Linked DNA regions of Homo sapiens. The gene in region 1 interacts genetically with each later gene. Each region holds a gene or a part of one and is shown in the gene's direction. Other genes may lie near its edges. The genes, in order: ZNF236 and ARID1A.

Region 1 (4,362 bases):
GACTCGCATGGCTGTAGACAAAACTGATTGGAGGATGACCAGGTACTAGGCTGTATCTGTAATCTAGGTGAGAGAGCATGGCTCAGGGGTAATATACGTGGGAATGGCTTGGATTTGGTTTATATATTGGAGCTAGATCTTTGATGAGATTGAGTGAAGGCTGCAGTGGGAAAGGGTAAGCAAGAATGACTCCTAGACACCGCTCAGCAATAAAAAGCACTTAAAATATTTATCAATATATAGATGAATTCCAACATAATTATGCTCAATGAACAGCCCCCACTTCCCTAAAGATTACGTGCGATACAATTCCATTTATATAAAACACCAAGAAAAACAGGTTGGGCACAGTGGCTCACATCTGCAATCCCAACACTTTGGGAGGCTGAGGCAGAGGGTCAATTGAAGCTAGGAGTTCCAGAGCAGGCTGGGCAACACAGAGAGACCCCATATGTTTAAAAAAAAACAAAAAGCTAGACATGGCGGTCCTCACCTGCAGTCTCAGCTACTCGGGAGGCTGAAGCAGTTGGATTGCTTAAGGGCAGGAGTTTGAGGCTACAGTGGGTCCCGATCGTGTCACTGCACTCCCGCCTGGGTGACAGAGCAAGCGAGACCCAGTCTGTATAAAAAGATATTTAAAAACTCCAGGAAATTCAAACTATAGTGACAAAAAGCAGATGGGTGGGAGGGGGAGGAGGGAAGGAGGGAGAGAGGAAAGGGTTACAGAGAGACGGGAGGAACATCTTCACTGTTGATTGTGATGATGGTTTCACAGTGTATACATGTGTCAAGATGTATCAAACTGCACACTTTAATTTGCGCCACTGCACTCCAGCCCAGGTGACAGAGTAAGGTCGCTTTCCCCGGGCTCGGCCGGCCTCTCCACCCGGCGCTCGGGTGCTGCGCTGCCTGTTCCTGTTGCCACTTCGTGTAAGTTAGCGCAGGCAACAACACACAAGACCAGCACACGTGAAATGGTCCATTTTAATGCACTGCCCCCAGGGAAAGGAACATTACCGGCTTCTGGCCATGTCGTCTTCCCAGTCCCAGATGGCGGTTCCGGGTTTGGGCTCCGAGGCCCTTCGCAGCACTAGGGCGGCGCGAGTAGGGCCGCCCTCCGAGCCATGCTGCGGTCCGAGGTGACGCGCGCACGCGAGTTCGCGGACACGCACGAGACGCCCGGGCCACGGAGGCGCGGGGCTGGCCCAGGGTCCCCGCCAGGCCGAGCTCTAGGGCTGCCGGCCCGGCCCGGTGACCCCCGCGCTCCCCTCCGTCCGCTAAGGCCCCGCGGCGCCGCGCATGCGCCCCGCCGCCGCCCCCGCCCCCACCGCGCCCGCGCCCGCGCCCAACGCCCCCACCGCGGCCCGCGGGCCATGGAACCTGCCAAGGCCGGCGCGGTTCGAGCGCTCCGGTGCGCGCGTTCAGGCGCCTTTCCCCCGTGAGCCCGGCGGCGCTCGGACCGGGCCGCCCGCCGCCGGGCAGCTCCGCCCGCCTCTAGCGCCGGCTGGGCGCGCCCCCGCCCCGGTGCCCGCGCGTGCGCGCCCCCGCCGCCGCGTGTGAGTGTGAGTGTGAGTGTGAGTGGGTGTGGGTGCGAGCCGGGCCGCCGACGATGCCGCGGGGCCGCCCCCCGAAGCCCAGGGAGAGCAAGGCGCGCGGCGACTCCGGTAAGGCCCGCGGCCGCGCCCTCGCGCCCCGCCGGCGGCCGGTGCGGGGCCCGCGCCCTGCCAGTCCCCGGATGCGGCGCGGGGGGCGCCGGGAGCGGCGGGGCGGGGGCGGGGGCCGCGCAGACCCGGGCCGCCGCCGCCGCCGACTGGCCGGGCGGGCCGCAGCGCGGGCGGAATGATACGGGCGAGTCGCCGCCCGGCCCCTCCGCGCGCTGGGCCTACTTTCCTGGGCCGGGCGGCGGCTGAGGCGGGAGGCGGGAGGCGGGTGAGGGAGCAGGCGGCCGCCTCCTGCGCGCGCCCTGCCCCCGCTGGCCCTGCCGCGGCCCGCGCTGAACTTGAGGGAAAGTGGCCGCCCCGTGTTCCGTCCCGGGGCCGGAGGGCCGCGGGGCGCGCTGGGGAGGCGGCCTGGCCAGAGCCCGGGCCTGCGGATACCGCGCCCCGGGCTCCTCCCGGACGGCGCCCCCGCCCGACCCTGCGCGGCGCCGGCTGCCCCGGGGACGTTGGGCTCGGCCCACAGGGAGGCCGTGGAGCGCGGGGTCGTGCACACAGTAGGCGCCAGCGTTGTCCGGGAAGCGCAGGGTCGTGCACACAGTGTGCTCCAGTGTTATCTGGGGCGCGCTGTGGGGCGTGCATACAGTAGGCGCCATTGTGATCCGGGAACTTGAACCCTGAGCCTCTGCAGACGCTGTGGGTAGTGCATACAGTAGGCGCCATTGTGATCCGGGGGGCTGGAACCCTGGGCATCTGGAGAGCGCTGTGGGTCGTGCAAACAGTAGGCACCATTGTGATCCGGGTAGCTTGAACCTGGAGCTTCTGGAGAGCGCTGTGGGTCGTGCATACAGTAGGCATCAGTGTTATGTGGGGAGCGCTAGATCGTGCACACAGTAGGCGTCAGGAAGTGTTTTCCCCAGTAATTTATTCTCCATGGTACTTTGCTAAAGTCATGAAATAACTCAGATTTTGTTTTCCAAGGAAGGAGAAAGGCCCAGAATTTAAGAGCAGGCAGACACACAACCGGGCACCCCCAGACCCTGGCCCTTCCAGCAGTCAGGAATTGACTTGCCTTCCAAAGCCCCAGCCCGGAGCTTGAGGAACGGACTTTCCTGCGCAGGGGGATCGGGGCGCACTCGCCGGTGCCGCGGTTCCCAGGTCGAGGGCAGTGGGGTAGGGGGCGCCGCGCTTTTTCTCGCGGGCGCCGTGGTTCCCGTGCGGCCTTGGACGCGAGTCTCCCCCTGCAGGCCTGGTCCCTGGTCCTGGTCACCCGTGCAACTGGAGCGGCGCTCCGCGTTTGGAAAGGGTTTTGAAGGGGGTTCTAAGGGGGAGTGGGCGCCTAGGACTCCCTATGGGAGTCGGTGGGTTATACCTTGACTGCCGTTGATTTTTATTTAACTGTTTAGCTTAGTGACTCAAGTGTTCCCCTTTTCTTGGGGATGAGTAAACTGAGGCTCATTAAAGAGCTTGTGACCAAACAACACAGGTGCCCCAGAGAAAGGTCGGGCCTGGAAACTACAAAGGATTGTGTTAATTTTGTGTTTAGGAAGAAAGAGGTAATGGGTAGGAATCAATGTAAACTTATTCATAGGCCACACCAAACCAGGAATTCTTGTCGTGATTGCACTTGGTAGAGTTAACACACGTGCACATTACGGAAACGTTGGTGACCAACAGGCGTTTCAGCGAGCTTTCGCACACCTCATGGGCCTTTGTGGGCTGCTGGAGAGATGTTGGCTGCACCATGACCCAGGTATGCAGATTTGTAGTTGGATAACAGCAGTGCTCAGAATTTTGATTAATGGTTGATGGTGTCTGGCCTTTAAGGAAGTCTTTGTTGCCTCTCCCGCTTTTGAGTTTTGGCCTTGACCTTATTTCGTTAGTTTAATTGTTTTGTTAGTATGCCATCTGCCAAAAATAATGTAAGGTGCAGTGTCTCAGTTACTTGGAAGAAGGCTTAGGATAGAGAAAGAATGTAAAATTTCCACGGCCACAGGCGGGGCACCCATTCCCCCAGTATCCCCATCTCACCGATGGTATCCCTGTCCACCTGGTGTTTCACCCTCAGGCCTCAAGAATTATTCTATTTCTTTTATCCCCCAACACACTTCCTAATTTAGTGTTGCAGCTTCTACCTCGGGAATGTATTTCCAGTGGGCCCTCCTCTTTCCATCTCCAGAGATACCCTCTGACCCAGCCTCCCTCTCCGGGCTGGAGAGCTGCAGGAGCCCCCTTCCTGGGCCCTGCTAGTCCTGGGCTCCTGTAAATAAATCTGTCACTTGTCAGCGTGGATGAACTTGTTAAATGTAAATCAGATGGCTACACCCTGATTAAAAGCGTGCATTGGCTTCCTCATCCCTTTAACAGAAACCCATTCCTCCAGGATCCTGTTGATCGGGCCTTGTCTGACTCTTCTCTCTTTCCTTGCTCTGGCATGCAGTCTTTTGTGTTCCTTGATGCCACATTAGTTTTTGTCTTAGGGCATTTGCCATTTCCTAGTCTGAGAAGCACTTTTTGCTAGTCTTGTGGCTCCAAGTGATTTAGCGTCTTCAGAGAGGCCTTCCTCAAACCTGCTTAAAAGTTACCTTTCCCTTCTGAACACCAGTCCTCCTGTAGCAAAGTGGTTCTCAAACTGTGGTTCCTGGACCCCTGGGGGTTCCCTGAGATGTTTTCAGGCTTCTGTAAGGTAAATATCATAGACTAAGAC
Region 2 (3,807 bases), on another chromosome or scaffold:
AGTGTTTGATAATTCTGTGCTTGACACAGCATCTTCTATCGTCTCTGAAGGAACCAAATGTTTCAGAGCTTTGTGTAAATACTTGCTGAGCTGTCAATATGTACCCAGGAGGTTTCTGTAGTAAGATGTAAACTGTTCTATAGAATGTTTGACAGGCAAATTAATAAACAGTTTTCAAGCAAAGATAATGCTAGCCTCCTCATGTGGTGGAGTAAAATAACATTGGGGAAAAAGACTTGGGGATAGGAAAAGGGTAGTGCTGGGGGGCAGTGAGTGTGGAGATAAGAAGTGATCTAAAAAAAAATTGAAATGGAAAGATGCTGCCCTGGTAGTGAAACCTCTGTGGCCCTGGCTGCGTGCTAAGTTCAGGGCATGTGGTATCCTGTTAAAGTCAATTGCAGTTTCATAGTGAAAATAGAAGTTTGGAAAGAAGATCCTGACTGTCAATAGTAAGGTAAGTATTACCCCAGACACTTGGCTTATGAGACTTTGAGGTTTAAAGGGTAGCTTGGTGAGATTATTTTTGGCTTGGGTTTGCATTTCTGGAATATTAGAAAGGAGAAAAAAGATACTGCAACTTGAGTGTGATCTTTATCCTCAATTTTGCTGTTGTGCTGGGGATTATAAGTCCACTACCCAATGGCCTGGGTTTATTTATACAGTTTTTACTGGACTTCTGTGTATCACTTATGATAAAATTAATATGCCTTTACACTCTGTTCCTGGGTCAGTACAAAGTCCAAATATTTGGGGACTCACTACATCTTACTTGAAGGATTATGTGAGTAGATACAGTCTTTGTTTTTGAAATTGCCATTTTAGGATTAAAAACATATCTGGGTTCCTTCAGTGACACATTCTTTTTATGGAAGAAGAAGAAGAATCTATGAATATTTTAGCTGTCTGTCTGTGGTCCTCTTCTTTGGTAGCCTTGTGAGATGACCAGATTTGCCTTCTCAGAATGTCTTTTTTAACTAGATTCATTGATTCTGACACCAGTTTTCTTTATAAGAAGTGTTTTTTACACCAGAGTCCTGGAAGTGCCCTTTTGACTTAGCTGTTTATATAGTAGCAGGGAATATGAATGTAATTATGGTCCTGACTATGATTTTTAGGTTCAGCTAACTTACTACCAAAGGCTATCAGCTTGTTTTAATACAAAACACAAAAACTTGGATTGGCACTGACATAGGTTGCTTAATATTGCATGGTCCTTTCCCAGTATGTTGGTAGTGAGGGTATTAGGAACTTCAGACTTATTGCTGAGAGCATAGTTTCTAAGTCAGAGAGATCAGGAAATTCCAATGGGGATGGGAAATAGCCCTATGTGATTACACCAGCTAGGTACTAGGAAGAGATTTAAAAGGTAGAAACAATATCTCCTTCAGAGGCATTTAGTTTTCTTAGGAAAGCATGCTTATGTGCACACATCTGGAAAACTTGAAAAGCAAGGTTTCATAAATGGATGTAGACCACACTAATTATGTGAGCTGAAGGAATTAGAGGAAAAGGTTCAATCAGTTTGGCAGGGTTAACCTGGGACAGCTTTTCAGAGGCTTTTTTTGTGAAGCTAAATGTTCAAGAAACTTAGAATACTAATTTGCCTTTTCATAATGCTATTCTTAAGTTCCATGGGCTTGATAGAATCCACATTGCACATCCATCTCCAGACCAGTAGCTGTCTCAGTGTTCCAATGACTTTGAGAATTTGGACTCTAACCATAAAACTCCCTGAAAGAGTGGTTCCAGGGTCTTAGTGGTTCTTGTGGTCAGGTAGAGCCTTTGGTACAGACTGTTAAGTTCTTGGCTAGTTCAGGGGCACTTTTCTAGTAAATTTGGATTTGGAAGGTCATGTCACCTTCAGAGTTGTGTGCCCTGGACAGCTCTGTAGTAATGGTGGTTCAACTTTGTTGGTGAGTCTGTCTTGGCAGAGTTAGTTGACCTTTCTTAAAACAAGAGCCACGAAGTAAGTATCTGTTGGGACTCTTAGGCTGCTATTTCTGAGGAGCTGGGAGCTGTGTTCAAGTCAAGTTGCTTGTGTTAGACCTTATATTGAGGTTGATGGGTTAGGTAAGCCTGCACATATGCAGTCTGCCCATTTATTCATAGAAATGGCCTTTAATACTGTTTTTGGCCGGGCGCGGTAGCTCACACCTATAATCCCAGCACTTTGGGAGGCCAAGGTGGGAGGATTGCCCAAGCCCAGGACCAGCCTTGGGACCAGGCTATTAACATAGGGAGACCCCATCTTTACAAGACACAAAAATTGCTGGATGTGGTGGTACGTGCCTGTAGTCGCAGTTTACTTAGAAAGCTGAGGCAGGAGGATTGCTTGAGCCCAGGAGGTTGAGGCTGTTGTAAGCCATGATTACGCCAGTGCACTCCAGCCTGGGCAATGGAGCCAAGACCTTGTCTCAAAAAAAAAAAAAAAATTTGTTTTTTATTAGGTTACTATGGCCAAGCAGCTAACAAATGCTGCTCACCAATGCTTAATCCTTGTGGAGCCTCTGGAATATAGTGATTTTGGTTTCTTTACCTGCTGGTCGATCTGTGGTTGGGCCTTGGCACTTCACCGGTCAAGGATCATCAGTGGATGCTTAACAGCTGAAGATGCATGGCATGTCCAGTGCCAGGCCACTGTAATGCTTCTACCTGGAGAAGGATTGGTTACACTGCTCCAGTACAGAAGTACTGCAGACCTTTTTTTTTTTTTGAGATGGAGTCTTACTTTGTCACCCAGACTGGAGTACAGTGGTGCAATCTGGCTCATTGCAACCTCTGCCTCCCAGGTTCAAGCGATTCTCATGCCTCAGCCTCCTGAGTAGCTGGGATTATAGGCTTCCACCACCATGCCCGGCTAATTTTTGTATTTTTAGTAGAGGTGGGGTTTCATCATGTTGGCCAGGCTGGTCTTGAACTCCCAACCTCGGGTGTGATCCACCCACCTTGGCCTTCCAAAGTGCTGGAATTACAGGTGTGAGCCACCACGCCCAGCCTTTTTTTTTTTTCCCCCCCCCTCAAGTAATGGTCCATGACCTGCTGAAAGTACTGGAGTCTTGGATAAACATTCTGGTTTAGAAATACCTTTTCCACTTTTTTTGCCTTGCCATTTTGGCATTTTGCAAAAGTGGGTTTTCAGTTACTCAGAATTGGGCACCATAGTTAACCTCCTATGGATTACAGGTGTTTAGGGGCTTGAACTCTGATCATTCCCAGGTTTTAGAGGAATCCAAGTTCGGGTGAATATTGACTTAGTAGCCTTGAGTATTCTTCCTGAAATTACCCCTCCTCTCCATTTAAATGGATGAAATTAGTTTTTTACTGAATGTGAAGGGACATCTGAATGAACTTCTGTTTGTTTTTGTTAGTCACTTGTGCATAGCTGGAATATTATCTTGGGACAGGTTGAGTCTATTTCCCAGTGGCTTCTGCATTTTCTAAGGGTGGACTGGAATGGGAAGAAGTCTAATGCCAAGAATGCATTCCAACATGCTGCAGAGTAGGAAATTTGATCCCTAAAATGTTGACTTAGTGTTGGTCATGGTACATATTAGAAATCACCCAGTAATCCAGGACAGATTTTTGTCACCCTCCAGGAAGTTATGTTGATATAAATACTAAGGGGCTTTGGGTACTGAGCTAAGTGCTCTGCAGGCCCAAAGCGCTGCTTGAATTGCTACCCATATGAAGAGGAAATGTGCCATGTGCCTTTTTTTCTCTCTTTTGCATTTGGGCTTCCTTATGGCTTTGTTGCTTTTATGTTCCCAAGTCTGCAAAGTTAGATATTAGACTTCCTCCTCCCTTGGC

Evidence for each region.
Region 2: changes in ZNF236 (region 1) and ARID1A together harm fitness more than expected from each alone (negative genetic interaction), as found in Homo sapiens cells (one large-scale study listed by BioGRID).

What each region holds. Positions count from the first base shown.
Region 1 is NC_000018.10:76,820,999-76,825,360, forward strand, and holds the start of ZNF236 (zinc finger protein 236), read left to right. Parts: upstream 1-1,558; 5' UTR 1,559-1,609; coding exon 1,610-1,664; intron 1,665-2,120; exon of another isoform or gene 2,121-2,351; intron 2,352-2,761; exon of another isoform or gene 2,762-3,359; coding exon of another isoform or gene 3,360-3,408; intron 3,409-4,362.
Region 2 is NC_000001.11:26,702,444-26,706,250, forward strand, and holds part of ARID1A (AT-rich interactive domain-containing protein 1A), read left to right. Parts: intron 1-3,807. UniProt on the Homo sapiens protein: Involved in transcriptional activation and repression of select genes by chromatin remodeling (alteration of DNA-nucleosome topology).